Linked DNA regions of Homo sapiens: regions 1 and 2 are each linked to region 3. Evidence: fine-mapped expression QTL. A gene starts in region 3. Each other region holds a variant in brackets. All regions are shown on one strand. Distances are from middle to middle.

What was found. PIP is the estimated chance that this variant, and not a neighbour inherited with it, causes the effect.
Region 1: its variant is fine-mapped to the expression of LAMTOR4 in whole blood (TOPMed, PIP above 0.99). The same link has a PIP of 0.9 or more in subcutaneous fat.
Region 2: its variant is fine-mapped to the expression of LAMTOR4 in lymphoblastoid cells (GEUVADIS, PIP 0.95).

The regions. Positions count from the first base shown.
Region 1 is chr7:100,451,113-100,461,453 of GRCh38, reverse strand. It overlaps TSC22D4-C7ORF61 (TSC22D4-C7orf61 readthrough), which reads left to right. Exons shown (of 6, transcript NM_001395846.1): 6 at 4,469-4,834. The coding sequence ends at 4,702. SPACDR (sperm acrosome developmental regulator) reads left to right here. Exons shown (of 3, transcript NM_001004323.3): 3 at 4,469-4,834. The coding sequence ends at 4,702. Among named protein-coding and RNA genes, the nearest start is that of SPACDR, 8.0 kb to the left of the region's middle. RefSeq lists a silencer at 4,190-4,352. The variant G/A (reference allele first, on the strand shown) is at 4,900.
Region 2 is chr7:100,235,915-100,246,255 of GRCh38, reverse strand. It overlaps the pseudogene CASTOR3P. Among named protein-coding and RNA genes, the nearest start is that of PVRIG, 21 kb to the right of the region's middle. RefSeq lists an enhancer at 2,353-2,752. The variant TA/A (reference allele first, on the strand shown) is at 6,684.
Region 3 is chr7:100,143,716-100,154,056 of GRCh38, reverse strand. It overlaps LAMTOR4 (late endosomal/lysosomal adaptor, MAPK and MTOR activator 4), which reads right to left and starts at 5,139. Exons shown (of 4, transcript NM_001008395.4): 1 at 5,082-5,139; 2 at 4,478-4,558; 3 at 540-657; 4 at 1-190. The coding sequence starts at 5,084. The coding sequence ends at 93. RefSeq lists silencers at 4,570-4,659, 4,670-4,759 and enhancers at 4,299-4,911, 5,060-5,169, 5,440-5,499, 5,524-6,136.

The DNA.
Region 1 (10,341 bases), 310 kb before region 3:
ATACAAAAATAAGCCAGGAATCGGTGGCTCACAGCTGTAGTCCCAGCTATTCGGGAGGCTGAAGTGGGAAGTCTGCTGGAGTCTGGGAAGCGGAGGCTGCAGTGAGCCGAGATCGTGCCACTGAGGCAGGTGGATCACCTGAAGTTAGGACCAGCCTGGCCGACATGGTGAAACCCTGTCTCTACTAAAAACAAAAACAAAAATCAGTGGGGTGTGGTGGTGCACCGCTGTAATCCCAGATACTTGGGAGGCTGAGGCAGGAGAATCGCTTGATCCTGGGAAGCAGTGGTTGCAATGACCCGAGATTCTGCCACTGCACTCCAGCCTGGGCAATACAGTGAGAGTCTGTCTCAAACAAACAGAAAAGAATAGCAGATGAGTGCAGAGCTGTCCCAAGGTGTGTGGGTTGGAGTGGAACGATCCTGAAGCCTAAAGTCAGCTGGTAGAAGGCAGGGTTGCCAAGTTGTGAGCTTTGGATTGGACCCTTAGAGCAATGGGAGCCCTTGAAGACATTTGAGCAGAGGAGTGACATGATCAAATGTTGATTTTGAAAGCTCACCTGCACTCATATTTGGGTAGGATTGTAAGCTTGTTCAGCCCAGCCTGGGCAACACAGGGAGACCCCATCTCTACAAAAGTAAAAAAATTAGCCAGGCATGATGCATGCCTGTAGTCCCAGCTACTTGGGAGGCTAAGGTGAGAGGACCACTGGGAGGTCAAGGCCACAGTGAGCTATATTTGTGCCACTGCACTCCAACCTGGGTGGCAGTGAGACACTCTCAAAAAAAAAAAAGGAAAATAGATAGCACAGCAACTCTGGAAAACAGGATGGTCATTTCTCTCTCTCTCTCTCTTTTTTTTTTTATGATGGAGTCTCACTCTCTCACATAGGCTGGAGTGCAGTGGCATGATCTTGTTCACTGCAACCTCTGCCTGCCAGGTTCAAGCAATTATCCTGCCTCAGCCTCCCAAGTAGCTGGGATTACAGGCACTCACCACCATGTCTGACTAACTTTTGTATTTTTAGTAGAGACAGAGTTTCACCATATTGGACCATGCTAGTCTCGAACTCTTGACTTCAGGCGATCCTCCCACCTCAGACTCCCAAAGTACTGGGATTACAGGCGTGAGCCACAGCGCCTGGCCAAGAGTGGTTATTTCTTATAAAACTAACCACGCAGTTATCATATGACCCAACAGTTGTACTCTTGGGCATTTATCCCAGATAAATAAAATCTTATGTTCACACAAAAATCTAAATGTGAGGCCAGGCGCAGTGGCTCACGCCTGTAATCCTAACACTTTGGGAGGCCGAGGCAGGTGGATCACAAGGTCAGGAGATCAAGACCATCCTGGCTAACACAGTGAAACCCCGTCTGTACTAAAAATACAAAAAATTAGTCGGGCGTGGTGGCGGGTGCCTGTAGTCCCAGCTACTTGGGAGGCTGAGGCAGGAGAATGGCGTGAACCTGGGAGGCGGAGCTTGCAGTGAGCTGAAATAGCGCCACTGTACTCCAGCCTGGGTGACAGAGCGAGACTCCATCTAAAAAAAAAAAAAAATCTAAATGTGGATGTTCACAGCAGCTTGATTTGTAATAGCCAAAATCAACCCATGTCCTTCAGTGGGTGAATGGTTAAACTGTGATACCTTCAAACCCCAGAATACTACTCAGCAATAAGAAGGGACAAACTGGCCAGGAGCAGCGACACACCTGTGATCCTAGCACTTTGAAACACCAGGCAGAAGCATCGCTCGAGCCCAGGGTTTCGAGGCCAGCCTAGACAACATAGTGAGACCCCGTATCTGCAAACAAACAAAACAAACACACAAATAAATAAAATTCTAAAAAGACGGAAAGGACAGGGCCGGGCGTGGTGGCTCATGCCTGTAATCCCAGCACTTTGGGAGGCCAAGGCAGGCATATCACCTGAGATCAGGAGTTCGAGACCAGCCCGGCCAACATGGTGAAACCCTGTATCTACTAAAAATACAAAAAAATTATCTGGGCATGGTGGTGGGCTACTCGGGAGGCTGAGGCAGGAGAATCGCTTGAACCTGGGAGGCGGAGGTTGCAGTGAGCTGAGATCATGCCACTGCACTCCAGCCTGGGCAACAAAAGTGAAACTCTGCCTGAAAAAATAAAGGCCGGGCACGGTGGCTCACACCTGTAATCCCAGCACTTTGGGAGGCCGAGGCAGGCGGATCTCGAGGTCAGGAGATCAAGACCATCCTGACTAACAGGATGAAAGCCCGTCTCTACTAAAAAAAAAAATACAAAAAAATTAGCCAGGCGTGGTGGCAGGCGCCTGTAGTACCAGCTACTCGGGAGGCTGAGGCAGGAGAATGGCGTGAACCCGGGAGGCGGAGCTTGCAGTGAGCCAAGATTGTGCCACTGCACTCCAGCCTGGGTGACAGAGGGAGACTTCGTCTCAAAAAAAAAAAAAAAAAAAAGGTAAAAAGGACAAACTATTGATACACACAGTAACGTGGGTGTGAATCTTGAGGGAAATTTTTTGTTTTGTTTTGAGACGGAGTTTCACTCTCATTGCCCAGGCTGGAATGAAGTGGTGCGACCTCGGCTCACTGCAACCTCCGCCTCCCAGCTTCAAGCTATTCTCCTGCCTCAGCCTCCCGATTAGATGGGACCACAGGTGCCCACCACCACACCCAGCTAATTTTTTGTATTTTTAGTAGAGATGGGGTTTCACCATGTTAGCCAGGCTGGTCTGGAACTCCTGACTTCAGGTGATCCACCCACCTTGGCCTCCCAAAGTGCTGGGATTATAGGCATGAGCCACTGGGCCCGGCCTCAAGGAAATTATACTGAGTGGAAACAACCAATCCTAAAAGGTTATATTCTGAATGATTCCGTTTATATTATCTACCACTCTTGAAATAACAAAAGTCTAGAAATGGCAAACATATTAGTGGCTCAGTGGTTTCCAGGGGCCACAGAGATAGGGGGAGAAGAGTGTAGTTATTAAAGGACAACATGAGGGACACTTGTGATGATGCAAATGTTCTGTATCTTTTTTTGTTTTGTTTTTGTTTTTTGCTTTCTCCTGTCTGATGGAAATGTTCTGTAGCTTTCTGTTTTGTTTTGTTTTTATGTTTTTGTTTTTTGTTTCTCCTGCCCGATGGAAATGTTCTGTACCTTGACTGTGGTAGTTGGATACATGAACCTGCATACTGGATAAAACTTGGTAAAATTATACACACACACACACACACACACACACACACACACACACACACACCAGTGAGTACAAGTACAACTGGGGAAATCTACATAAGATCAGTAGATTGGATCAATGTCAATATCCTGACTATGATATAATAGTATAGATTTGCAAGATTTTCCTATGAGGTGAACTCAGTAAAGGGTGCACAGGATCTCTATGATTTCTTCCAATTGCAGGTCAGTCAGTCTACAATGATCTCAAAACAAAACAAAACAAAAAAACAGTTTAAGCCGAGCGTGGCGACTCACGCCTGTAATCTCAGCATTTGGGAGGCTGAGGCAGGTGGATCACTTGAGCTCAGGAGTTCAAGACCAGCCTGGGCAAAACCCCATTTCTACAAAAAAAAAAAAAAATATATATATATATATACACACACACACACACACACACACACACACACACACACATATATATATATAAAAGTTAGCCGGGCATGGTGGTGCACGACTGTAGTCCCAGCTACTCAGGAGGCTGAGGTGGGAGCATCACTTGAACTTGGGAGGTGGAGGTTGCAGTGAGCTGAGATTATGCCACTGCACTCCAGCCTGGGTGACAGAGTGAGACCTTGTCTCAAAAAAAAAAAAAAAAAAAAGGCCAGGCATGGTGGCTCACGCCTGTAATCCCAGCACTTTGGGAGGCCGAGGCCGGCTGATCACTTGAGGTCAGGAGTTCGAGACCAGCCTGGCCAACATGGTGAAACCCCTTCTCTACTAAAACTACAAAAATTAGCTGGGCGTGATAGCGAGCACCTGTAATCCCAGCTACTCAGGAGCCTGAGGCAGAAGAATCGCTTAAACCCAGGAGGTGGAGGATGCAGTGAGCTGAGATCATGCCACTGTACTCCAGCCTGGGTGATAGAGCAAGACTCCATCTCAAAACAACAAAAAAAAGAAGAATAGAACTGATGGGCCAGGTGTGATGCCTCACGCCTGTAATCCCCAACACTTTGGGAAGCCAAGGCAGGAAGATCTCTTGAGCCCAGGAGTTCGAGACCAGCCTGGGCAACATAGCAAGACCCCGTCTCATTAAAAAAAAAAAAAAGGATAGAAATGACAAACATTTGATGCAACCTGAGAAGGCTTTCTGGAGGAGGTGATGTATGAGTTGGGCTGATGGGAGAGGTGGAATCAGGGAGCCCTTTGCTGTTTATCTATGGGTCGTTCTAGCGGCAGTTTCTCCCTAGACCCAGCTATTTACGCATGCACATCTTCTCTTTCTCTTACAGTCATCAGTGAGTTCTGCCTCAGTCAGCTCCCAAGTGAGGACGCAGTCACCTTTGAAGACTCCGGAGGCTGAGTTGCTGTGGGAGGTGTACCTGGTGCTGTGGGCCGTTCGGAAACACCTGCGCCGGCTGTACCGCAGGCAGGAGAGGCACAGACGGCACCACGTCCGATGCCATGCTGCCCCCCGACCCAACCCGGCTCAGTCCCTGAAACTGGATGCCCAAAGTCCCCTCTAGGGGGAACCCCAGACCCTTAGAGAGTCCTGACCTCACTCTTACCTGGGGTCCCATATCAGCCCCTTCATTCCATGTATTCCAGTTGTAAAACAAGTATCAAAATATTGGGAAATAAATATCAGATAGTTCTGAGTCAGTATGGAGTGTGTTTGTGGACGGCGGGAGGGGATGAGAGGAGTTTGGGTGGGTCAGGGAGA[G/A]ACCCCTAAGGTGAGGGCCTAAATCCCAGTAGGGGTCACCTGTGGGTCTATTTGGGGGGAAGCATGGTCAGCACGTTTCTGCTCTGGGTCCCACCCCCTTCTTGGGGCCAAAATGCCTGTTTGTAACTCCACCTTTCCTTATAAGGACGGTAACAGCTGCCATTCACCAAGGACCCAGTCCCGTCAGCTGCTGTCCTTAGCGATCCTACAAGAAAGGTATTTAGGGTGGATTACGGGACTTGTCCAAGGCTCAGCAAAGGAGGCCTTGCTGGAAACTGCCAGCTCCCAGGGGTAGCCCACTACCCTGCCTCTCTGGTGCTGAAGGGCTTTGCCATGGGCTTGGCTGTGGAGAGTTGTGCGTCTGCAGACGCACATGGGGGCTGTGGGAGATGCATCCACGTGCTGTGAAGGAACTCCAGCCCCGCTGCCTGCTGCCCGCGCCTCACCAAGAGCTGAAACTACACCTCCAGGGGGCTCTACAGGGACCATGCTCACGGCAGGGCCGGGTGAAGGCTGCAGCCTAGGAGCTGGGTGAGGGATTTGGCCTGGCACCGTGGGAATAAGGACCTAGAGGGAGGCTGTGGCAATTTGGAAGGAGGTTGGAGGGCAACGGAGACAACAAGAAGGGAGACCCAGCAGCCTCAGGTCCCCTCTCGGAGTAGCCAAGCCACATGAAGGTGCAGAGGTGGCTCTCCAGGAAAAAGCAGGGTTGTTTCACAAAAGCAACAGCAAGGCCGGGCACGGTGACTCATGCCTATAATCCCAGCACCTTGGGAGACTGAGGCGGGAGGATTGCTTGAGCTCAGGAGTTTGAGACCAGCCTGGGCAACATAACAAGACCTTATCTCTTAAAACATCTTTTTCACATGGTGAAACCCCGTTTCTACTAAAAATACAAAAAATTAGCTGGGTGTGGTGGCATGTGTCTATAATCCCAGCTACTTGGGAGGCTGAGACAGAATAATTTGAACCCGGGAGGCAGAGGTTGCAATGAGGTGAGATTGCACCAGTGCACTCCAGCCTGGGCAACAGAGTGAGACTCTATCTCAGAAAAAAAAAAAAAAAGAAAGAGAAAAGAAAGGTCATGTAGCTTTCATTCTGCACATGTTACACAGCAGGTGTTCAACACATGAGTTAAGTGACTTCACTGGGAATCAGTCCTGAGTGAAGCCTAAAGTCAAAGCCTGCTTTCAGGTTTTCAGGCGGGGCCTCAAAACAGACTAATAAAGAGCAGCTCATGTCTGGAGTTTTCAATCACCAATTATTCATCACGTCTCTATTATCTGCCAGGAACCCTTCTGGGGGTGAATGGTGTTGGTGCAGGATCTGAGTCCCAGGAAGCCCTGAGATTTAATGGGTCCTGAGGTTTGGAGTAGTACCTAGCTGTCTAACATCCGGGATCAGCCCCTCCGAGTCTTTAGAGATGAGCTCCTCATCGCTGGGGACCTGAGGTTTCAGTGAGAGGAGGGGAGGGGAGAGTAGGACGAAGCTGGGCCTCTGAGGGTCACTGGTAAAATAGCCTTGCAAGTAGCTACAGGCCCAGGAGCTCATCCAGGCTTGACGCTGTGGGCTTGTGGAAAGGAATACTGCTCTCGTTTGTCTTTGGCTTCTTCAGCTCTTGGGAGTGGAAGGGAAATTAAGGAAGGTGGGTTCAGCCAGCAACCAAGGCACATCCCATCACTCTCTCCTTCCCCAGATCTGGAGCCCTGTCTAGGCTTGGCTGAGCAGGCACAGGCAGACTTGTGGGAGAGGAAGGAAAGGGGTGGGCAGAAGGAAGCTGCCTCTTGATGACAGTTTTTTTGTGTGTTTTTTTGAGATGGAGTCTCACTCTATCGCCAAGGCTGGAGTGCAGTGGTGTGATCTCGGCTCATTGCAACCTCCGCCCGTGGGGTTCAAGTGGTTCTCCTGCCTCAGCCTCTGGAGTAGCTGGGATTACAGGTGCTTGCCACCACACCCATGTAACCGTTTTTGTTTTTTGGTTTTTTTTTTTTTTTTTTTGAGACAGAGTCTCACTCTGTCACCCAGGCTGTAGTGCAGTGGCATGATCTCCGCTGACGGCAAGCTCCGCCTCCCGGGTTCACACCATTCTCCTGCCTCAGCCTCCTGAGTAGCTGGGATTACAGGTACATGCCACCACGCCCGGCTAATTTTTTTTCGTATTTTTAGTAGAGAACGGGGTTTCACCATGTTAGCCAGGATCGTCTTGATCTCCTGACCTCGTGATCCGCCTGCCTTGGCCTCCCAAAGTGCTGGGATTACAGGCATGAGCCACCGCGCCTGGCCACACCCGGCTAACTTTTGTATTTTTAGTAGAGACAGGGTCTCACCATGTTGTCCAGGCTGGTCTTGCACTCCTGACCTCAGATGATCCACCTGTCTCAGCTCCCCGAAGTGCTAGGATTACAGGCGTGAGCCACTGCACCCGGCCAGTGGTTTTTGTTTTTTAGAGACAGGGTCTGGCTCTGTTGCCCAGGCTGGAGGGCAGTGGCGCAATCATGGCTCACTGCAGCCTCCAACTCCTGGACTCAAGCGATCCTCCCACCACAGCCTCCCGAATAGCTGAAACTACAGGTGTATGCCACCATGCCCAGCTAATTCTTTTTTAATATTTGTGGCGATGGGTTCTAGCTATGTTGCCCAGTCTGGTCTCAAACTCCTGGCCTCAAGCAATCCTCCTACCTCGGCCTCCCAAAGTGCTGGGATTACAGGTGTGAACCACTGCACCCAGCTAGGAATGTCATTTTGGAAGTGATAAAGAATACCATGTGCAGGAAGTAGTAGGAGGAGCCCTTGATGCGGAGTCAAGAGACCTTGGTCCTAGTCTCAATATTGCTACTACTTTGCTGTACGACTCTTATTTTTATTTTTTATTTATTTTTGAGACAGAGTCTCGCTCAGTTGGCCAGACAGGAGGACAGTGGCACAATCATAGCTCACTATAGCCTCCATCTCCTGGTCAATCCTCCTGCTTCTGCCTCCCAAAGGGCTGGGATCGCAGGCACTTGGTGATTTTTGAGAGTCACTTTCCTTCACTGAGACTCAAGCTCCTTAAATAAAATGATGACTTGATGGCTGGGCACAGTGGCTCACACCTGTAATCCCAGCACTTTGGGAGGCTGAGGTGGGTGGATCACCTGACGTCAGGAGTTCGAGACCAGCCTGGCTAACATGACGAAACCCTCTACTAAAAATACAAAAATTGGCTGGGCATGGTGGCTCACGCCTGTAATCCCAGCACTTTGGGAGGCCGAGGTGGGAGGATCACGAGGTCAGGAGATCGAGACCATCCTGGCTAACACGGTGAAACCCCGTCTCTACTAAAAATACAAAAAATTAGCTGGGCGTGGTAGCCGGCACCTGTAGCCCTAGCTACTTGGAAGGCTGAGGCAGGAGAATGGTGTCAACCTGGGAGGCGGAGCTTGCAGTGAGCTGAGATCTTGCCACTGCACTCTGGTCTGGGTGACAGAGTGAGACTCCATCTCAAAAAAAGAAAAAAAAATTAGCTGGGCATGGTGGCGCGCACCTGTCATCCCAGCTACTCGGGAGGCTGAGACAGGAGAATTGCTTGAACCTGGGAGGCAGAGGTTGCAGTGAGCTGAGATCACGCCACTGAACTCCAGCCTGGGCGATAGAATCAGACTCTGTCTTCAAAAAATAAAAATAAAAATAACAAACTTCCTCAGGCTTCAGGGAGTGTTGAGTTAACCTGCAGAAACAAGGTAAGTTCCTGGGAGGTGCTAACTAGCAGTTGCCGGAGACAGAACCAGCCCAGCCTTTGGGCTCACAAAGACCAGGTTCAAATTCTGCCTTTCCTGGCTGTGTGACCTTCAGCAAGTGAATTAACCTGTCTGAATCTCTGTCTCAAAAGCAAGGCTCTGTCTCAAGAAAAAAAAAAAAGGAAAATAAATGAAATAGTTATTAGAGTGTGGTCCTGGACCAGAGCATCGCATTCCCCAGAGAGTAGTAGAAATTCAAACTCCAGGCCCTGCACCGCAGACCTACTGAATCAAAAACCCTAGGATGGGGGCCAGCAATCTGTTTGAACACGCCTGCTGAAGTTTGGGAATCACTGCCACACTGCATGGGAATGTAGACTGTTGGGATTCTGAAGCTTAGGACATATCACAATCTCCTGAGAGCTTGTTAAAAACACAGATTCCAGGCCGGGCATGGTGGCTCACACCTGTAATCCCAGCACTTTGGGAGGCTGAGGCAGGTGGATCACGAGGTCAGGAGATGGAGACCATTCTGGCTAACGCAGTGAAACCCCGTCTCTACTAAAAATACGAAAAATTAGCCAGGCGTGGCGGCACTCACCTGTAGTCCCAGCTACTTGGGAGGCTGAGGCAGGAGAATTGCTTGAACCCGGGAGGTAGAGGTTGTAGTGAGTGGAGATTGCACCACTGCACTCCAGCCCGGTGACAGGGCGAGACTCTGTCTCAAAAAAATAAAACAAAAACAAAAAATAAAATAAGAAAAAAAAAACACAGATTCCAGGCCATGAACGGTGGCTCACGCCTGTAATCTCAGCACTTTGGGAGGCCAAGGCGGGTGGATCACCTGAGGTCAGGAGTTCAAGACCAGCCTGGTCAACATGGTGAAACCCTGTCTCTACAAAAATATAAAAATTAGCTGGGCATGATGGCAGGTGCCTGTAATCTCACCTATCTGGGAGGCTGAGGCAGGAGAATCGCTTGAACCTGGGAGGCAGAGGTTGCAGTGAGCCGAGATCAAGCCACTGCACTCCAGCCTGGGCAGCAGAGCAAGACTCCGTCTGAAAAAAAAAAAAAAACCCACAGATTCCAACTGGGTGTGGTGGCTCATGCCTGTAATCTTAGCACTTTGGGAGTCCAAGGTGGCAGGATCACTTGAGCCCAGGAGTTTGAGGCCAGCCTGGGCTACATAGCCAGACCCCATCTCTACAAAACAAACAGACAAAAAAGAAAAGTAGCTGCTGGTGGTGGTGGTATGTGCCTGTGGTCCCAGCTGCTCGGGAGGCTGAGGTGGAGGATGGCTTGAGCCCAGGAGTTTGAGGCTGCAGTGAACCATGATGATGCCGCTGCACTCCAGCCTGGGCAACAGAGCGAGAGCCTGTCTCAAACCAGACAAGACAAAACAAAACAAAAACCAGATTTTTGGCCTCAAAGTCAGAAACTGAGGTGGGGTCTGGGAATCCTTTTTTTTTTTTTTTTTTTGAGATGGGGTCTCACTCTGTTGCCCAAGCTGGAGTGCAGTGGCACAATCTCGGCTCACTGCAACCTCCGCCTCCCGGGTTCAAGCGATTCTCCTGCCTCAGCCTCCAGAGTAGCTGGGATTACAGGCGTGCACCACCACGCCCGGCTAATTTTTATATTTTTAGTAGAGACGGGGTTTCACCATGTTGGCCAGGCTGGTCTCGAACTCTTGACCTCGGGTGATCTGACCACTTCGGCCTCCCAAAGT
Region 2 (10,341 bases), 92 kb before region 3:
GACAGGCCAGACACAGTGGCTGACACAGTGGCTCACATGTAACCCCAGCACTTTGGGAGGCTGAGGCGGGAGGATCACTCGAGGCCAGGAGTTCGAGACCAGTTTGAGCAATATAGTGAGACCCTGTCTTTACAAAAAAATGAAAAAAAAAAAAGGCCGGGCACGGTGGCTCACGCTTGTAATCCCAGCACTTTGGGAGACCGAGGCGGGCGGATCATGAGGTCAGGAGATTGAGACCATCCTGGCTAACACGGTGAAACCCTGTCTCTACTAAAAATACAAAAAAATTAGCCAGGCATGGTGGCAGGCACCTGTAGTCACAGCTACTTGGGAGGCTGAGGCAGGAGAATGGCGTGAACCTGGGAGGCAGAGCTTGCAGTGAGCCGAGATCATGCCACTGCGCTCCAGCCTGGGCAACAGAGCAAGACTGCGTCTCAAAAAAAAAAAAAAATTAGCCAGGCATGGTGGTGTGTACCTGTAGTTGCAGCAACTTGGGAGGCTGAGTTGGGAGGATCACTTGAGCCCAGGAGTCTGAGGCTGCTGCAGTGAGCTATGACTGCATCACTGCACTCCAGCCTGGGCAACAGAGCAAGACTTTATCTCAAAAAAAAAAAAAAGATGGGCGAATGATCAGAGACTTTCTGAGAGGGTGCCCTTCCCAGTTGGTCTGTGTCTTAGGAAATCTGGGGTGTGTGTTGGGGTGCTGAGCAAGGCAGAGGGGCAGGGGTGGAAGAGGTCTGGGGGAGGGAAGGTTAAGCTGACCCAGCAAGGGGTAGATGGGCCCCGGTGGCAGGAAGGGGGATTTCTGAGCTGCATGTCTTTGCTGAGGGTGAGTTTGGGCAGAGGTCATCTAAGGATGGGGCCAGCCGAGGGGCCCCCAGGAACACCCAGCCCCACAGGCCAGCAGTACACGGTAGGGTTGGAGTGGTGGTGGCCGCAGGAGATGAGTGTGACCGGGAACCAGGGCCACTCCCAGAGTTACCATGTGACAGGACAACAACTCCAGCCCATGCCCCAGCGTGTCCCCAAAGTCCTTTAATAGCAAGGCCTCCAGAGAATGTTGCGTCCCAATTCATAGTGTCAGGGCAGGACTGCAGGTTACTTTAGGGTCACATATTTCCATTGTGGTCTTCAGCATGTTGACACAAACTGTCTGCATGCTGGGAAAGGTCAGAGATTGTGTGTCTCGGTGTGCTTTCTCAGCTCTGGTGTAAGGAACACAGAAGGTTGAATGTGCTTCTGGTTATGTCGGGAAAAGACCAGGGAAGTGTCGTGCCATTAACCAAAACCAGAAATGGATGCTGTTTATGAAAGCAGCCACAGCATGCCTGGTGCTTTTTTTTTTTTTGGAGACAGAATCTCGCTCTGTCACCCAGGCTGGAGTGCAGTGGCGCGATCTCGGCTCACTGCAACCTCCGCCTCCCAGATTCAAGCAATTCTCCCACCTCAGCCTCCTGAGTAGCTGGGATTACAGGTGCCTGCCACCACGCCCGGCTAATTTTTTTTTGTATTTTTAGTAGAGACGGGGTTTTACCATGTTGGCCAGGTTGGTCTCAAACTCCTGACCTCAGGTGAACCATCCCCTCGGCCTCCCAAAGTGCTGGGATTACAGGCATGAGCCACCGCGCCCGGCCGCCTGGTGCTTTTTTAATTTTATTTTTTATTTTTTGAGACAAGGTCTTACGCTGTCACCTAGGCCGAAGTGCAGTGGTGCAATCACAGCTCATCACTGCAGCCTCGACCTCCTGGGCTTGAGCAATCCTCCTTCCTCAGCCTCCTGAGTAGCTGGGACTACAGGTGCATGCTACCAGGCCCTGTTAATATTTTTTTTTAGATTTTTTTTTTGGTAGAGGCAGGGTCTCACTGTGTTGCCCAGGCTGGTCACCTGGTGATTTTATCTACAAAGGGACATTGATTCCCCACCCTGGTTCCTGAAGGCAGACAGTATGTACCCCTCTTGGAAGTTTGGGGAACAGGCTCAGGAGCTGTGTAAATATGCCCAAGACCACAGGATCGAACAGCCAACTCCAAAGCATTGCCTTTTTTTTTTTTTGAGACAGAGTCTCACTAGTCCGGAGTGCAGTGGTGTGATCTACACTGCAGCCTCGAACTCCCAGGTTCAAGCGATTCTCGTGCTTCAGTCCCCCAGGTAGCTAGGATTACAGGCATGTGCCACTACGCCAGGCTAATTTTTGTATTTTTAGTAGAGATGGGTTTTCACCATGTTGGCCAGGCTGGCCTCGAACTCCTGACCTCAAGTGATCTGCTTGCCTTGGCCTCCCCAAAGTGCTGGGATTACAGGCATGAACCACTGTGCCTGGCCAGGTGTTTTTGTTTTTTTTTTAAATCATAAGTAGTTGTAACTCTGTAAAAAGTGTACCCTGCCATACACAATGTCTGGGGACTTGTTTTTCAACCCACAGTGCTGTGACATTGCTGATACTTGTTTATCTCTTTGCTTAACACTGTGGATGGTTCATGTTGCCTGCTGGGTAATATTCTGCCATTCTTCATGTCCTCTCCTGCTGATGGGCATCTGGGCTGTGGCCAGGTTTTTGTTACTGAGAACAGGCTGTCACGGATCCTCTTGTCTGTGTCTCCCGTTACGTATCTGTAAAGGGTGCATGTCTCAGAATGGAAACGCTGAGTCATGGGGCGTATGCTACAAGTCCCCCCTGCCTTCAGGAAGTCCCCAACCCGTACAGGCAGCTCAGCCCCGGCTCGGCAGACCCCAGGCAGCTAACTCCTTTAACCCAACTAAGCTTCGGTTTTCCCGTCTGTGAAATGGGAATCATTCTACAGCACATTCATTAAGGTCACACTGATTACAGACCTCGTACCAAGCCCTGTGCTGGGCATGGCGGCCCTGGAGGAGGAGATGCAGCCTTGTCTCTTGCTCGCAAAGACAGAAATGGGGCGGGGCACGGTGGCTCACACCTGTAATCCCAGCACTTTGGGAGGCTGAGGTGGGTGGATCACCTGAGGTCAGGAGTTGGAGACCAGCCTGGCCAACATGGCGAAACCCCATCTCTACTAAAAATGCAAAAATTAGCGGGGCATGGTGGCACACACCTGTAATCCCGGCTACTCGGGGAGCTGAGGCAGGAGAATCACTTGAACATGGGAGGCAGAAGTTGCAGTGAGCCGAGATCGCACCACTGCACTCCAGCCTGGGCAACAGAGTGAGACTCCATCTCAAAAAAAAAAAAAAAAAAAAAAGGCAGACAGACATGGAAGTGATTAATCTCAGTACTATAATGGATATCGCCATGGCTGGGGAGGTGATAGGCTGGTAGGGGTGAAAGGAAGTTGGACTGGGGACCGTGAGAATTGGGGAGATCCAAAATCAGTGATCATTTTGCACCAAGACCTGACAAGCAGAAGGTATACTCTTGTCTACAAGGACTGAGATCTCCTTGGGGGGAGCCTGGGTTCCTGGGGCTTTCCCCAGATCTTTGTGATTTCTTCTGCCCTATCCATCCCCTTTGGTAGCCCTGCCTCTCCATAATCACCCTGGAATTTGCCAAACACCATCACCCACGCTGTCTGATTGGATTCAGCCTGGTCGCCCGTGACACAAGCACATTTTATTTTCTATCTTTTTTTTTCTTTTTTTGAGATGGAGTCTCACTCTGTCGCCCAGGCTGGAGTGCAGTGGCGCGATCTCAGCTCACTGCAAGCTCCACCTCCCGTGCTCACGCCATTCTCCTGCCTCAGCCTCCCGAGTAGCTGGGACTACAGGCACCCGCCACCGCGCCCAGCTAATTTTTTGTATTTTTTTTTTCAGTAGAGACACGGTTTCACCGTGTTAGCCAGGGTGGTCTCGATCTCCTGACCTCGTGATCCACTCACCTCGGCCTCCCCAAGGGCTGGGATTACAAGCATGAGCCACCGCACCCGGCCTTATTTTCTATCTTAAGGCAAAATAACTCCTGTTCAGGATCGCCCTTCCAGTTGCAGAACCAATTAAGGGCTTTTTTCTAAGTAAAACTTGAAAGGGCAGCTTCTAGTTGCTAAAGACAGGAGAAATGAAATGTAAATAACACGAGAGACCCATTGAAAACCCAGGAGAAACAGATGAAAAAGCTGCAGCTGGTTAGCAGAACAAAGCCGGGCATTCACCCTCCCCCCGATTTTCCTCTGGGAAGAAAAGCTCCATGAACTGTGGCCCCGAAACACTTCTATCACTCACTGCCTTTTTTTTTTTTTTTTTTTTTTTGAGATGGAATCTTGCTCTGTCTCCAAGCTGGAGTGCAGTGGCTGGCGTGATCTTGGCTCACTGCAACCCCTGCCTCCCAGATTCAAGTGATTCTCCCGCCCCAGCCTCCTGAGTAGCTGGGCACTCAGCCTCCTGAGTAGCAGGCGCACACCACCATGCCCAGCTAATTTTTGTATTTTTAGTAGAGACGGGGTTTCACCTTGTTGTCCCGGATGGTCTTGATCTCTTGACCTTGTGATCCGCCTGCCTTGGCCTTCCAAAGTGCTGGGATTACAGGCATGAGCCACCGCGCCCGGCCGCTCACTGCGTGTTTTAAAAGGCCCCTGTCAGCCGGGTGCACTGGCTTACACCTGTAATCCCAGTACTTTGGGAGGCCGAGGCTTGGGAGGATCGCTTGAGGTCAGGAATTTGAGACCAGCCTGGGCAACATAGCAAGACCCCGTCTCCACAAACATTTAAAAATTAGCCAGCCATGGTGATGTGCATCTATAGTCCCAGCTACTCAGGAGGCTGAGGTGGGAGGACCACTTGAGCCCAGGAGTTGGAGGCTGCAGTGAACTATGATCATGCCAGTGCACTCCAGCCTGGGTGACAGAGCAAGACACTGTCTCTAAAGGAATGAATGAATGAATGAATGCTACTGTTAGCCACATCAGAAAAACATCAGCAGGGAGGCAGCCAGAAGTTGGCTGGCAGGGGCAGGGGTGGGCAGTCTCCGGAAGCAGGTGAGGCCCTGATCCCTTCATTCCCTCACTTGGATAGGCTGCAGGAGATGTGGCCAAACCTCCCTCATTCCAGACAGAATGGGCCACACTTTGAAAGAAACACCCCTGTCCTTCCAGGCTGGTGCTGTAATCCCAAGTGGGCTGAGAAAGGACCTGCTTTAAGTAAGGCCCGAGAATGTTTTGTAAACAGGGCCTATAACATCCAAGACGCCTGTCTTGGGGCCTGTTTGCAGAGCCTCTCTTTTTTGGGTGGGTGGGTCACTTGAGCAGTGAAGGCTCTGGGCTTGTTTCAAAACCCCGCTGGCCAGGCTCTTTTTTGTTTGTTTTTGAGATGGAGTCTCGCTCTGTTACCCAGTCTGCAGTGCAGTGGCATGATCTCGGCTCACTGCAATCTCCACCTCCCCGGTTCAAGCAATTCTGCGTCAGCCTCCCGAGTAGCTGGGACTACAGGTGCGCGCCACCACGCCTGGCTAATTTTTTGTATTTTTAGTAGAGGTAGAGATGGGGTTTCACCATGTTGGCCAGACTGGTCTCGAACTCCTGACCTCAGGTGAGCCACCTGCCTCTGCCTCCCAAAGTGCTGGGATTACAGGCATGAGCCACTGCACCCAGCAGGCCAGGCTATTAATTCCAAAGGTCCTGGCTTGTTCCCAGGCAAGCTAGCAGGTGACCTTGGCAGAGTCTGGCTGACACAGAGTATGGTGACCCTGCAGGAATCAAGCCTGCATCTTTTATTTTATTTTTTAAGACAGGATCTCACTGTGTCACCCAGGCTGGAGTGCAGTGGTGCAATCATGGCTCACTGCAGCCTCCGCCTCCCAGGCCCAAGTGATCCTCCCACCTCCACCTCCTGAGTAGCTGAGACTACAGGGGCACACCACCATGCTCAGGTAATTTTTAAATTTTTTTGTAGAGATGGAGTCTTACCATGTTGCCCAGGCTGGTCTCAAACTCCTAGGCTCAAGTGATCCCCCTGCCTTGGCCTCCAGAAGTGCTGAGATTACAGATGTGAGCCACCGCGCCCGGCCTCCCGCCTGGAGTTTTTTAACAGCACTTAGCACCCATACTGGGTACTTTCTGGCATTTGCTCCTCTTTCCAGCTCTTTGTAGGCAGAGTACAGAGAGGCCACAAACCCCGGGGGCCTGGCATCTGGGGTGTGCACCTGGCCATGACTCATTAGAAAAGGCGGAGAGAGAATTAGAACTGGAGACCTTAGCTTCTCCAAGAGGAGGGTTAAGTCAAGATGATGCCACATGAGGGCAGACAGGGTTTTTTCTCATTGAGGCTTCTTTGATTTTGAAGGCAAGTGTGTGGCCACAGGCCATCCTTTCGCTCAGCAATCCTTGAGTGTTGATTCCATGTCCAGCCAGTGTCAGATACAAGGTGTGTGTACGGAGGACCCTCTGTCCTTGCTTCTGAGCGCTGTGGTCTACTGAGGGAAGTAGACCCTTAAAGTATGATTTGTAATAGATTGTGGGAAGCACTCGGCACTGTCACATGCAGTTGCATGGGTTGTGCGCTGCACAACTCTAAGGGCATAATTCACATAGACTGTGAGATGAATTGTATCCTAGGGCTGTGATGCACCACCAGCCCAGTTGTCCACAGTGGCCTGAAAGTCATCTCATAGACATAGTGTGGGGCTGTAGGCTGTCAAAGGAGGACAACCTCTATGATGGGAGATGAGGGAAAGGAAGTGGCTGGTGTTGATCAGGCAGGGTTTTTGTTTTTTTTTTTT[TA/A]ATTTTTAGTAGAGGCAGGGTTTCACCATGTTGGCCAGACTGGTCTTGAACTCCCAACCTCAAGAGATCCATTCACCTCCACCTCCCAAAGTTCTGGGATTACAGGTATGAGCCACCATTTCTGGCCAGGAAAGGTTTTACCCCAGAGGAGATGTTTGAACTGGGTCTTAAAGGATGAACATGAAATCTTCAGCCAACAAAGTTGGGAGGCTATGCTGGGTAGATGAAAGAACATTTAGGCTGGGCGAGGTGGGTCATGCCTGTAATCCCAGCACTTTGGGAGGCTGAGGCGGGTGGATCTTCTGAGGTCAGGAGTTTGAGACCAGCCTGGCCAACATGGTGAAACCCTGTCTCTACTAAAAACTCCAAAAAATTAGCTGGATGTGGTGGCGGGCGCCTGTAATCCCAGCTACCTGGGAGGCTGAGGCTGGAGAATCGCTTGAACCCCAGAGGCAGAGGTTGCAGTGAGCCAAGATGTGGCACCACTGCACTCCAGCCTGGGCAACAAGCGTGAAACTTCATCTCAAATAAAAAAGAAAGAACATTCGTCACTGTTGGAGGCATGAGACTGTGGAGGCAGGTGCGTTGAGGCCAGGAGTGGAAGAGGGAGACAAGACAGAAGGGTAGTCCAGTCTTGAGTTTGCTTTGTGGGGAGTGGTGGAGAGGCAAAAACGGATCTCAGAGTGACCTTCGAGTAAAGAAGACATGGGGCTGTGTGGAGTGGCTCACACCCATAATCCCAGCACTTTGGGAGGTGGAGGTGGGAGGATCACTTGAGGCCAGGAGTTCAAGACCCACCTGGGCAACATAGCAAGATCCCATCTCTATAAAAATTTAAAAAATTAGCTGGGTGTGGTGGTGTGCACCTGTAATCCCGGGTACTTGGGAGGCTAAGGATGGCCCGCAAGGGGGTGCTGTGCTTGGACTGGGGAATGGCCAACTGCCCAGCAATAGGGAGATGACTTCGAGAAGCAAAGATAGGAAGGTTAAGCTTGATAAGACAAGAAATGCAGCAGATGTAATCCAAAGGCAAAGGGGGGACCTGTAGCTTGAATTAAGAAGTGGTGTGGGCTGGGCGCAGTGACTCACTCCTATAATCCCAGCACTTTGGGAGGCCAAGGCAGAAGGATCACTTGAGCTCAGAAGTGCAAGACCAGTCGGGACAACGTAGTGAGACCCTGTCTCTACAAAAAATAAAAAATTAGCCGGCTGGGCATGGGTAATGCACGCCTGTAGTCCAAGCTAGTTGGGAGGCTGAGCTAGGAGGATTGCTTGAGCCCAGGAGGTCAAGGCCACAGTGAGCCAAGATCATGCCACTGCACTCCAGCCTGGGCAACAGAGCAAGAGCCTGTCTCAAAAAAGAAAAAAAAAAAAAAAGGCCGGGTGCGGTGGCTCATGCCTGTAATCCCAGCACTTTGGGAGGCGGAGCCGGGTGGATCATGAGGTCAGGAGTTTATGACCACCCTGGCTAACACGATGAAACCCTGTCTCTACTAAAAATACAAAAAATTAGTCGGGCGTGGTGGTGGGCGCCTGTAGTCTCAGCTACTCTGGAGGCTGAGGCAGGAGAATGGCGTGAACCCAGGAGGCGGAGCTTGCAGTGAGCCGAGATTGCGCCACTGCACTCCAGCCTGGGTGACAGAGCGAGACTCCATCTCAAAAAAAAAAAAAAAAAAAAAAAAACAACAACAAGGAGGTCAAGGAGAGGGAGGAGTCTGGGGGCCGACTCCTGAGGGTAGTGACCAGAGCGACGGCAGCAGGTGCCTCCGGCTGATCTGCCCTCCCCGAAGCCCACCCGTGCCGAGGTGCACATTCTGAGATGTCCCCTAGCTGGCAGAGCCACAGAATTGCTCAGCCCCTGGGGACAGGTCACTTCAACAACATATTTATACTCCGTTTACACACAGGCCGCTGTTGCCTTCTGCTGGTGTTTATGCCTTCCGGAATAATTTGTGCGGTCTATTTCTGGAGTGTCCCTCAGAGCCGAGGGCGCCGGGAGCAAGGGCCGCGTCTGTTTGCCTCCCCGGGGCTCTCGGGCAGCTGGGCAGCCCCACCCCACCCAGGGAGTACCAGCTCATGGCAGTCTGGTGACTGTGGGAGTCCAGGGCTCTTTCTGAGTTCATGGGGGTCCCTAGGAAGGGTCCAGGCCTGACCAGTGATTGCCACTTACTGTGGTGATAATTTGCTGTTGTTCTCAAAGCAATTATAGATTTCACGTATCCAGGCAATACTTGCAAATTGGATATGGGACAGGCAGGGACAGAGACGTAATTAGAAAACTGAAGAGCCGGAGGGAAATTGATGAGCGTGGGTGGTTGTTCCAGCAGAATGCGTTACGCCCCTCCCAGGGGGAGAGAGGCCACCTCATGGATGACCCTAGCACAGGATTTTTTTTTTTTTTTTTCCCCGAGATGGAGTGGCTCTGTTGCCTAGGCTCTAGTGCAGTGGCACGATCTCAGCTCACAGCAACCTCCCAGGTTCAAATAATTCTCCTGCCTCAGCCTTCCAAGTGGCTGGGATTACAGACGCCCACCACCACGCCGGGCTAATTTTTATATTTTTAGTAGAAATGGGGTTTTGCCATGTTGGCCAGGCTGGTCTCAAACTCTTGACCTCGAGTGATCCGCCCACCTCAGCCTCCCAAAATGCTGGGATTACAGGCGTGAGCCACCGCAGCAGACCAAGCATTTTCTTTACATTCAAGTTTATCAAGGTATGATTTACATACAGCGTAATTCACAAATTCACCCCTTTTTAGCAGATAGTTCTTTGGGTTTTGACAAATTTATATGATCTTGTGAGGTTTTTTTGAGATGGAGTCTGAATCTAATCACCCAGGCTGGAGTGTAGTGGCGTGATCTTGGCTAATTGCAACCTCCGCCTCCTGGGTTCAAGCGAGTCTTCTGCCTCTGCCTCCCCAGTAGTTGGGATTACAGGTGCCCACTGCCACGCCTGGCTAATTTTTGCATTTTTTTGTAGAGACAGGGTTTCACCATGTTGGCCAAGTGGTCTCAAACTCCTGACCTCAGGTGATCCTCCCACCTCTGCCTCTCAAAGTGCTGGGATTACAGGCGTGAGTCACCGTGCCCGGCCTAAATTTATGTGAATTTATATGATCTTGTAACCACCGCCACACTCAAGAGGCCCATCCCCCCAGAATTTCCCAGTGCCCCTCTCTAGTCAGTGTCTACCCGTCCCCTGATAACTGCTAATCATTTGTCCCTATAGTTTGGCCTCTTCCAGAATGTTGTATGAATAGAAACATACAGTATAGAATCTTTTGAGCTTGGCTGTTTAACTTAGCAAAATGCACTTTAGATCTACCCGTGTTAATGCATGAATCGGTAGTTTATTCCTTTTAATTGCTGACCCGTATTTCCTCATGTGGATGTGCCTTAGTTTATCCTCTTTCCAGTTGAAGGAAGGACATTTGGGTTGTTTCCAATTTAGAGCAAATACAAACAGGCAATATGTATTCGCATCTAAGTCTTTGTGCGGGCACCTGTTTTCACTTCTCGTGGATGAATACCCAGGAGCAGGATAGCTGAGGCTGGGTGGTCAATGTGTGCTGAACTTTATAAGAAATTGCCAGCTGGGTGCAGTGGCTCACGCCTGTAATCCCAGCACTTTGGAAAGCCAAAGAGGGAGGATCGCTTA
Region 3 (10,341 bases):
TCTAGCAGCAAGCCAAGACCGACAGGTGTGCCTGCCTCATCACAGAGGCCCAGGACCCAATCCGCTTCTCCGACCCTCGCCCTCCGGCAGGCTCAGACATCAATGGGCTCCCGACCTCGGTTCTGCCTCTTCACCACAAACACCCTCTGTCCTGACACCGTCACCAGCAGTGTGTGTTCTCCAAAGACCACTGGAGGAGAGACACACCTTCCCCCGCCCCAGGAGAGGGAAGGGAGCACAGAGTTAGTGGGTGCAACAGACTCCATGGGGCGGGGCCACACGCACATTGGCTGGGATCAAAGCCAAAGAAGTTCTATAGTTCCAGGCTCAGAGATTTGAAGATGAGTGGCCTCTGCTAGATCTCCTTTCTCTTGCCTTCTCATTCACAATTCTGATACCAGGGAGTCCCAAAGGGAGGAAAGTGGCCAGACCAGAGACCCCAGGAGATGGTAGGAGGCTGGAAGAAGAGAAGCCGAGAAGCCCCTGGAAGTAGCCCCCCGCTCCCAGTACCACCACCAAGGGCAGGGGCAGGGGCTCACCAGACAGGCGCTTGAAGGGCACATTCATGCCGCGGTGCAGCCGGAAACCGCAGGCTGTGCTGACCAGCTCAGAGATGGCACTGGCTGCCTGCTCATCATTCTCCAGGTCCCCAGATGACTGCATGCAGACGGAGGAGGGAGAGGGGCGGGCATTACGGCACAGGCTCAGGAAGGAATTCCAGGCACAGTCCCCTTGGTTCTCACACTTAGACCCTCTCCCCCTTGGCTTGCCAGTACCCTCAGCTTTGGAAAAAAACAACCTGAAATCTCCCCCTATAATGTTGTCACCCTCCGGATGCCATCCTGTTTCCCATAATACTGGCCTTCCCCGGATGAGCAGTAACTTATCCATCTTTTTTTTTTTTTTCTTTTTTGAGACGGAATCTCGTTCTGTCACCCAGGCTGTAGTGCAGTGGTGCAATCTCGGCCTCTCGGGTTCAAGTGATTCTCCTGCCTCAGCCTCCCAAATAGCTGAGATTACAGGCACGTACCAGCACCACCACATCTAGCTAATTTTTTATATTTTTAGTAGAGACGGGGTTTTACCATATTAATCAGCTGGTCTCAAACTCTTGACCTCAAATGATCTGCCCGCCTCAGCCTCCCAAAATGCTGGGATTACAGACGTGAGCCACCGTGCCTGGCCATCCATCTCTTTATTGACCATGCTTTTCTAACCCCATAAAACTGGATTTCTCCCATGTCCCTGCCTATTTGATAAAGCCACATTCTCCAAAATGAATGCCTGCCCACCACTTACCTGTTAATGGCTCCATCTTTTTCTGTCTTCACACTTGCTGCCCTGTTTGCAGAATCTCAAACATAAACATTCCCTTTGTCCTTGAATACCTCCCTCTGTTGACCCCTAGAGTAAGTGATGGGACAGTGGCTTGGGCTTCCTCTTTTCTGGTGACTGTCTCAACTTCCTCTTCCCTCTTCCTTGATATGGGCCTCCACTAGATTTAGTTCCTTTTGCTGAACTAGCAATATATATTAACTGCTATTTTATATCAAACTCAATGTCTAAAGTTGGGCCATCAAATTTCACCTTATCCTTATCCACCTCCTTCCCAATCCACTTCTTTTTTTGATTTCCTGTTTGTTTGTTTGTTTTTTGAGACAGAGTCTCACTCTATCACCCAGGCTGGAGTACAGTGGTGCAATCTTGGCTCACTGCAACCTCTGCCTCCTGGGTTCAAGCAATTCTCCTGCCTCAACCTCCCAAGAAGCTGGGATTACATGCATGTGCTTCCATGCCAGGCTAATTTTTTGTAGAGATGAGGTTTCACCATGTTGGCTAGGGTGCTCTCGAACTCCCAACCTCAAGTGATCCACCCACCTCAGCCTCCCAAAGTGCTGGGATTAAAGGCGTGAGCCACCACGCAGGGACATGTTTCTTAAGGCATCATCACTCTTCCAGGCTTTAGAGTTCTGGCTACAGAAATATTTCCTCTATTACCTATTTCTAGTCATTAGCAAGATATACTGATTCCTCCTTTAAAATAACTTCTTCCAGCCAAGCACAGGAGCTCATGCCTGTAATCTCAGCACTCTGGGAGGCCAAGGCAGGAGGAATGCTGGAGGCCAGGAGTTTGAGACCAGCCTGGGCAACATAGCAAGGCCCCTGTCTCCACACATTTTTTTTTTTTTTTTAATGGCTGGGCGTGGTGGTGCTTGCCTGTAGTTCTAGTTACTTGGGATGCTGAGGCGGGAGGATTGCTTGGGCCCAGGAGTTCAAGGCTACAATGAGATGTGATCGTTACCACTGCACTCCAGCCTGAGTGACGGCGAGACTCTATCTTAAAAAAAAACAAACAAACAAAAAAACAGGACGGGGTGCTGTGGCTCACACCTGTAATCCCAGCACTTTGGGAGGCCGAGGTAGGCGGATCACGAGGTCAGGAGATCCAGACCATCCTGGCTAACATGGTGAAACCCCATCTCTACTAAAAATACAAAAAAGTAGCCGGGCATGGTGGCGGGCGCCTGTAGTCCCAGCTACTAGGGAGGCTGAGGCAGGAGAATGGCGTGAACCCGGGAGGCGGAGCTTGCAGTGAGGGGAGACTGCACCACTGCACTCCAGCCTGGGTGACAGAGTGAGACTCCGTCTCAAAAAAAACAAAAACAAAAACAAAAAAACAGGCCGGGTGCAGTGGCTTATGCCTGTAATCCCAGCACTTTGGGTGGGAGGCTGAGGCGGGCAAATCATGAGGTCAGGAGTTCGAGACCAGCCCGGCCAACATGGTGAAACCCTCTCTCTACTAAAAATACAAAAATTAGCTGGGCATGGTGGTGCACACCTGTAATCCTAGCTAATCAGGAGGCTGAGGCAGGAAAATCACTTGAACCCGGAAGACGGAGGTTGCAGTGAGCTGAGATCATGCCACTGCACTCCAGCCTGGGCCACAGAGCGAGACTCTGTCTCAAAAAACAAAAACAAAAAAAAACAAAAACAAAACTCTTCTCTCCTTGCTCCTCCTTCTTACCACCACTTGCCCAGTCTCATCTCTTTTTTTTTTTGTTTTTTTTGAGACGGAGTCTTGCTCTGTCGCCCAGGCTGGAGTACAGTGGTGTGATCTCGGCTAACTGCAACCTCCACCTTCCAGGTTCACGCCATTCTACTGCCTCAGCTTCCCGAGTAGCTGGGACTACAAGTGCCCGCCACCAGGCCTGGCTAATTTTGTTTTTGTATTTTTAGTACAGACGGGGTTTCACCGTGTTGGCCAGGATGGTCTCGATCTCCTGACCTCGTGATCCGCCCGCCTTGGCCTCCCAAAGTGCTAGAATTACAGGCATGAACCACCACGCCCAGCCCAGTCTCATCTCTTAATGACGCCTCCTTCTGCCCATCTTCACATCACTAACAACAATATTGCTCAACCACCTCACTGGGTCTTGTTTCTGTTTTAAAAAACCTTTCAAACTGTATTACCTTCAAGAATAAGTTCAAGTGTGTTAACCTGGCCTTGAAGATCCTTCACAATTACATCCTCCCTGACCATATCCTCCTCTCTTCCCTCAAACCTTCCCAAATCTTTTCAGCATAAACTTACCATCAGTTCAGATAGGTTAGTGCCACACACCTGCAAATAAGTCCTCCCCCACTGTAAATACTCTCCTTTAAGGTGGGCTGAATTCCTACCTCCCGGAAAGTTAGTTACCTTGTCATAACATGTTGAATTTTTAATATCCTGGATTCCCTCAATAGTCTTTACCACCTGTATTGTTTTCAACCCTTAACCTTAAGCTTTGTCTCTACCTAAGTCAAAAACATCTGGAGACTTAACACTATACAGTACTATGGAACAAAATACAAATGCCTCTTTAAGAAATACCAAATAAAGGCCAGACGTGGTGGCTCACGCCTGTAATCTAGAGACCTAACACCATACAGTACTATGGAACAAAATACAAATGCCTTTTTAAGAAATACCAAATAAAGGCCAGGCATGTTGGCTCACGCCTGTAATCCCAGCACTTTGGGAGGCTGAGGCAGGTGGATCACCTGAGGTCAGGAGTTTGAGACCAGCCTGGCTAACACGGTGAAACCCCGTTTCTACTAAAAATACAAAAAATTAGCAGAGCATGGTGGCACGTGCCTATAATCCCAGCTACTCGGGAGGCTGAGGCAGGAGAATCGCTTGAACCCCGGAGGCGGAGGTTGCAGTGAGCCGAGGTCGCACCACTGCACTCCAGCTTGGGCAACAAGAACGAAACTCAGTCTCAAAAACTATAAATAAATAAATCGCAGCCGTTAGGAGACTAAGATTCCACAGACTGATTACTGAAAGTAATTGCAAAAACTGCAAATACTTTTGTACCAACCTAATAGATGCCAGGCAGGAAACCAGATAAAAGCCGAGAAAAGAAGGGCCAATATTAGAAGGGGTTACCGGGCTGTGTGCACTAAGGGACCCCCTCCCTTTCCCAGAACGCACCGCCAGCACTGCACCTTCACTCAGTACCAGGTAGCCGAGCTGGTCTGGGATTCGCTCCAGCCCCTGGGTCAGCGCAGAAGTCTAGTGGGTAAAGATGCAAGTCGTGAGAAGCATGCTAGAGGGATGGACGGCCCGATACCCTTCACCTGCAAACCCAAGTCTCTGGGTTGACGATGGCCCCAGGTTTTCTCATTCCCCAGCCAGGTCCCTTCCCGGCCCCCTCCCCCCTACATGGTCCTCAATACTGATCTTCCCGAGCCTCCATCTGCCCCCACTCTCGCCCCCGGGCTCCCCTGGCCTTCCACATCCCACCTTTGCTACCCCAAGGGGCCTTTGCTGCCCCACTGGCCCCTGCCCCCAGACCCTCTCTTCACCTCCCTTCGTCTCCGCCCGACCTGCAGACTACCCGCAGCCCCAGAACACCCTCCCACAGACCCCTCCCCAGCATTCTCGTCGCCATCCCTCCCATTTCCATCCCCTCTTCCTCCCCGAGCGGATAGGAGGTGAGGGTGGAGCGCAGGCCCACCAGGGGGAAACCACACAGACTGGGGAGCAGAGACGCTGAACCCCCGGCGGGTCCTCTCGCGCATGCGTCCTCACTCACCATCGCAGTCTTCGGTGCTGGGGGAGCTCCCTACCAGATAGGTAGCTTCCGGCTTCAGGCCCCGGTCACGTGCTTGCAGCCGCTGCGCTCCTCCTTCTGCTTGCGCCACTGGCCTTTAGCCCCGCCTCTAGCATGAGGATTGGACAGTGGCCACGTCGTCAGACCCAACCAGCCAGTGCGAAGCGCTGTTTCCCGGAGGCGCACGTTGATTGGTGATATCCCCTCTTTAACACCCATCTCCCCGCCCCTCAGTGCCTGAGCGAGAGGAAGACGCGGGAGCGTCCGAGGAGGGGAGGATCTGGGAGGGGCGGGAGTAGGCCGGGGTTGACCGTTTGGTCCTGGGCGCACTGTCTGGAGCCAGAGTTCCGCCTGAGCCAGGATGCCCGCTGGTGTGACCCCCCCAAATGAATCCCTTCCCAGGTTTAAGACTGGACCCAAAAACTAGAGAATAAAAGGAAATAACGTGCAATGCATGTGAAAAACTATTCAAGGCTGGGCGCCGTGGCTCACGCCTGTAATCTCAGCGCTTTGCGAGGCCGAGGACGGATCATTTCAGGGCAAGAGTTCGAGACGAGCCTGAGCAACATAGCGAGACCCTCCCCAGTCCCCCCGCTCCAACCACCTCTACAAAAAAATAAGAAAATAAGCCGGGCATGGTGCCTCACGCCAGTAATTCCAGCTACTAGGGAGGCTGATGGAGGAGAATCTCTTGAGCTCAGCAGTTGCAGAGTGCAGTGAGCTATTATGGTGCCACTGCACTCCAGCCTGGGTGCCCTTCCTCTAAAAAAAAAAGAAAAGAAAAGGAAAAAAAAGGTACTCAAATGCTACTTTTTTTTTTTTTTGAGTCGGAGTCTCACTCGGTCGCCCAGGTTGCAGTGCAATGGCGCGATCTCTGGCTCAATACAACTTCCGCCTCCCGTGTTCAAGCAATTCTCCTGCCTCAGCCTCGCGAGTAGCTGGGATTACAGGCGCCCACCACCACGCCCGGCTATTTTTGTGTTTTTAGTAGAGATAGGGTTTCACCATATTGGCCAGGCTGGTCTCAAACTCCTGACCTCGTGATCCGCCCGCCTCGGCCTCCCAAAGTGCTGGGATTACAGGCTTGAGCCACCGCGTCCGGCCCTCAAATGCTACTTTTGTGCCTACTCAAGACAGCTCTTTGTTGAAGACAAGAATTTGTTCCCGAAGTGGTTTTTTTGTCCCCAGATTCAGTCCGGGACAATGTGGTGGTAAATAGAATCCCCAGCTAGCCAATGCAGCTGCAATACTGAATATTCATTCCCTACAGGAAAAAATTAGAAACAGTACCTTGGAATGATACACACACACACACACACACACACACACACACACATCACACAATATATGTAAACATTAGAAATTTTTGTTTTAAATAATTTCTAAACCTGTTGCCATATTAATGTGGTGGAGGCTGTGTTAGTGAAATAATATGAAGAATGATTCTAGAAGCCTGGGCAACATAGCAAGACCCCATCTCTAAAAATTTAAAAATTAACCAGGCATGATACTGCACATGTAGTCCCAGCTACCCGGGAGGCTGAGGTGGGAGAATCGCTTGAGCCCAGGAGGTTGAGGCTGCAGTGAGCCATGATCATGCTACTGCACTCAAGACTGGGTAAAAGAGCAAGATTGTCTCAAAAAGCAACAAAAAAATCTGAATATAATAACAATTGTTAAAGTCTGGGTGTCTTTTAAGACTTGTTAGAAACAGCAATTTCAAGGCTGGGCGTGGTAGCTCACACCTGTAATCCCAGCACTTTGGGAGACCAAGGCGGGTGGATCACCTGAAGTCAGGAGTTCGAGACCTGCCTGGCCAACATGGTGAAACCTCATCACTACTAAAAATACAAAACAAACAAACAAAAAAAAAAAAAACTAGGTGGGTGTGGTGGTGCATGCCTGTAATCCCAGCTACTGGGGAGGCTGAGGCAGGAGAATCCTTGAATCCAGGAGGCGAAGGTTGCAATGAGCTGAGATTGTGCCATTGCACTCCAACCTGGGCAACAAGAATGAAACTCCGTCTCAAAAGAAAAAAAAAAGATTTTGATGTAATAAATTATGGTGGCAGTATTCTTGATATTTAACCATCTTTGTGTTTCTGGAATAAAATCTGCTGGAACAAATTATACTACCCATTTGTTTTACTGCTTTATTTAGAATTTTTAAAATCTATTATGATAAATGAGATTGGGCTGTAGTTTCTTTTTGGTATATTCTTTATCTGCTTTTGGTAGAAAGAGCAGGTTGCCAGATAAAATGAATCAGAGAGTTTCCTATCTTTTTTATCTATGGTCTGCAAATCAAACTGGTTGGACCAACTCACACTCCTCTAGCAATGTGTCAGAGTTCCCAGTTATCTCCAGCTCCATTAACACATGGTATTGCCACACTTTTTGTTTTTTGTTTTTTTTTTGAGACAGTCTTGTTCTGTTGCCCAGGCTGGAGTGCAGTGGCGCAATCTCAGCTCACTGCAACCTCCACCTCCTGGTTCCCGGGTTCAAGCAATTCTTCTGCCTCAGCCTCCCGAGTAGCTGGGACTACAGGAGCGCACCACCACACCCAGCTAATTTTTGTATTTTTAGTAGAGATGGGTTTCACCATGTTGGCCAGGATAGTCTTGATCTCTTGACCTCGTGATCTGCCTGCATCAGCCTCCCAAAGTGTTGGGATTACAGGCCTGAGCCACCATGCCCAGCCAGTATTGCCACACTTTTAGGGTAAAGTTTTTGGATATGCGATGGCTTCTCATTGTAGTTTTTATTTGCATTTACCTAAATATTAATGAGGTTGATCACATTTTCAGACAGGTTTGGCTTTTGGGATATCATCTTTTGTGAAGTATCAGTTCAACTTTTTTTTTTTTTTGAGACAGAGTCTTGCTATGTTGCCCAGGCTGGAGTGCAATGGTGCGCTCTTGGCTCACTGCAACCTCCGCCTCCTGGATTCAAGCAATTCCCTTGCCTCAGCCTCCCAAGTAGCTGGGACTACAGGGGCACGTTGCCATCCCGGCTTTTTTTTTTGTATTTTTAGTAGAGACGGGGTTTCACCGTGTTGCCCAGGCTGGTCTTGAACTCCTGAGCTCAGAGCAATCCACCTGCCTCGGCCTCCCAAAGTGCTACGATTACAGGCATGAGCCACTGCAACTGGCTTATTTATTTATTTTTTTTTTGAGATAGTCTTCCTCTGTTGCCCAGGCTAGAGAGCGGTGGTGCGATCTCGGCCCACTGCAACCTCCACCTCCCAGGTTCAAGCAATCCTCCTGCCTCAGCCTCCCGAGTAGCTGGGATTACAGGCACGCACCACCAGGCACGACTAATTTTTTTGGGTTTTTAGTAGAAAGGGGGTTTCACCATGTTGACCATGTTGGCCAGGCTGGTCTCAAACTCCTGACCTTAAGTGATCTACCCACCTCGGCCTCCCAAAGTGCTGGGATTACAGGCATGAGCCACCATGCCGGCCCAGTTCAACTCTTTTCTCATTTTTCTATTGAGTTTGTCTCTCTCTTTTTTTTTTTTTTTTTTTCCCGCCCAGGCTGGCTAGAGTGCAGTGGCGTGATCTCAGCTCACTGCAAACTCCTCCTCCCGGGTTCACATCATTCTCCTGCCTCAGCCTCCCGAGTAGTTGGGACTACAGGCGTCTGCCACCACGCCCGGCTAATTTTTTAGCTCAGGAGTTTGAGACCAGCCTGGCCAACGTGGCCTGTTGTGGGAAGTCAGGGACCCCAAACGGAGGGATTGGCTGAAGCCATGGCAGAAGAACGTGGATTGTGAAGATTTCATGGACATTTATTAGTTCCCCAAATTAATACTTTTATAATTTCTTACGCCTGTCTTTACTGCAATCTCTGAATGTAAATTGTGAAGATTTCATGGACGCTTATCACTTCCCCAATCAATACCCTTGTGATTTCCTATGCCTGTCTTTAATCTCTTAATCCCGTCATTTTGGTAAGCTGAGGAGGATGTATGTCACCTCAGGACCCTGTGATGATTGTGTTAACACAAATTGTTTGTAGAGGATGTGTGTTTGAACAATATGAAATCTGGGCACCTTGAAAAAAGAACAGGATAACAGCAATGTTCAGGGAACAAGAGAGATAACCTTAAACTCTGACTGCCGGTGAGCCGGGTGGAACAGTGCCATATTTCTCTTCTTTCAAAAGCAAATGGGAGAAATATTGCTGAATTCTTTTTCTCAGCAAGGAGCATCCCTGAGAAAGAGAGTGTGTCCCTGAGGGTAGGCCTCTGAAATGGCCGCTTTGTGGGGCGGCCGTCTTTCATGGTCGAAGCTGTAGGGATGAAATAAGCCCCAGTCTCCCGTAGCGCTCCCAGGCTTATTAGGACGAAGAAATTCCCGCCTAATAAATTTTGGTCAGACCAGTTGTCTGCTCAAACCTGTCTCCTGATAAGATGTTATCAATGACAATGCGTGCCCGAAACTTCATTAGCAATTTTAATTTGTCCCGTCTTGTGGTCCTGTGATCTCGCCCTGCCTCCATTTACCTTGTGATATCTTATTACCTTGTGAAGCATGTGATCTCTGTGACCCACACCCTATTCGTACACTCCCTCCCCTTTTGAAAAAATCACTAATAAAAACTTGCTGGTTTTTATTAGTCATCACGGAACCTGCCGACATGTGATGTCTTCCCTGGACACCCAGCTTTAAAATTTCTCTTTTTTGTACTCTGTCCCTTTATTTCTCAGACCGGCCGACTCTTAGGGAATATAGAAAAGAAGCTATGTGAAATATTGGGGGTGAATTTCCCCCGATAGCGGCCAAATCCTGTCTCTACTAAAAATTCAAAAATTGGCTGCACATATTGGCAGGCACCTGTAATCCCAGCTACTCGGGAGGCTCAGGCCTTGAACCTGGGAGACAGAGGTTGCAGTGAGCCAAGATCGCACTACTGCACTCCAGCCCGGATGATAGAGCGAGACTCAGTCTCAAAAAAAAAAAAAAGGAAAAAGTAATAATAAAACCACAGAATGAAGTTAAAGATAACTTTAGGCTGGGCGCAGTGGTTTACGCCTGTAATCTCAGCACTTTGGGAGGCCGAGGCAGGCGGATCACGAGGTCAGGTGTTAAAGACCAGCCTGGCCAACACTTTGAAACCCCGTCTCTACTAAAAATATAAAAATTAGCCAGGCGTGGTGGCATGTGCCTGTAATCCCAGCTACTCAGGTGGCTGAGGCAGGAGAATCGCTTGAATCCGGGAGGTGGAGGTTGCAGTGAATGG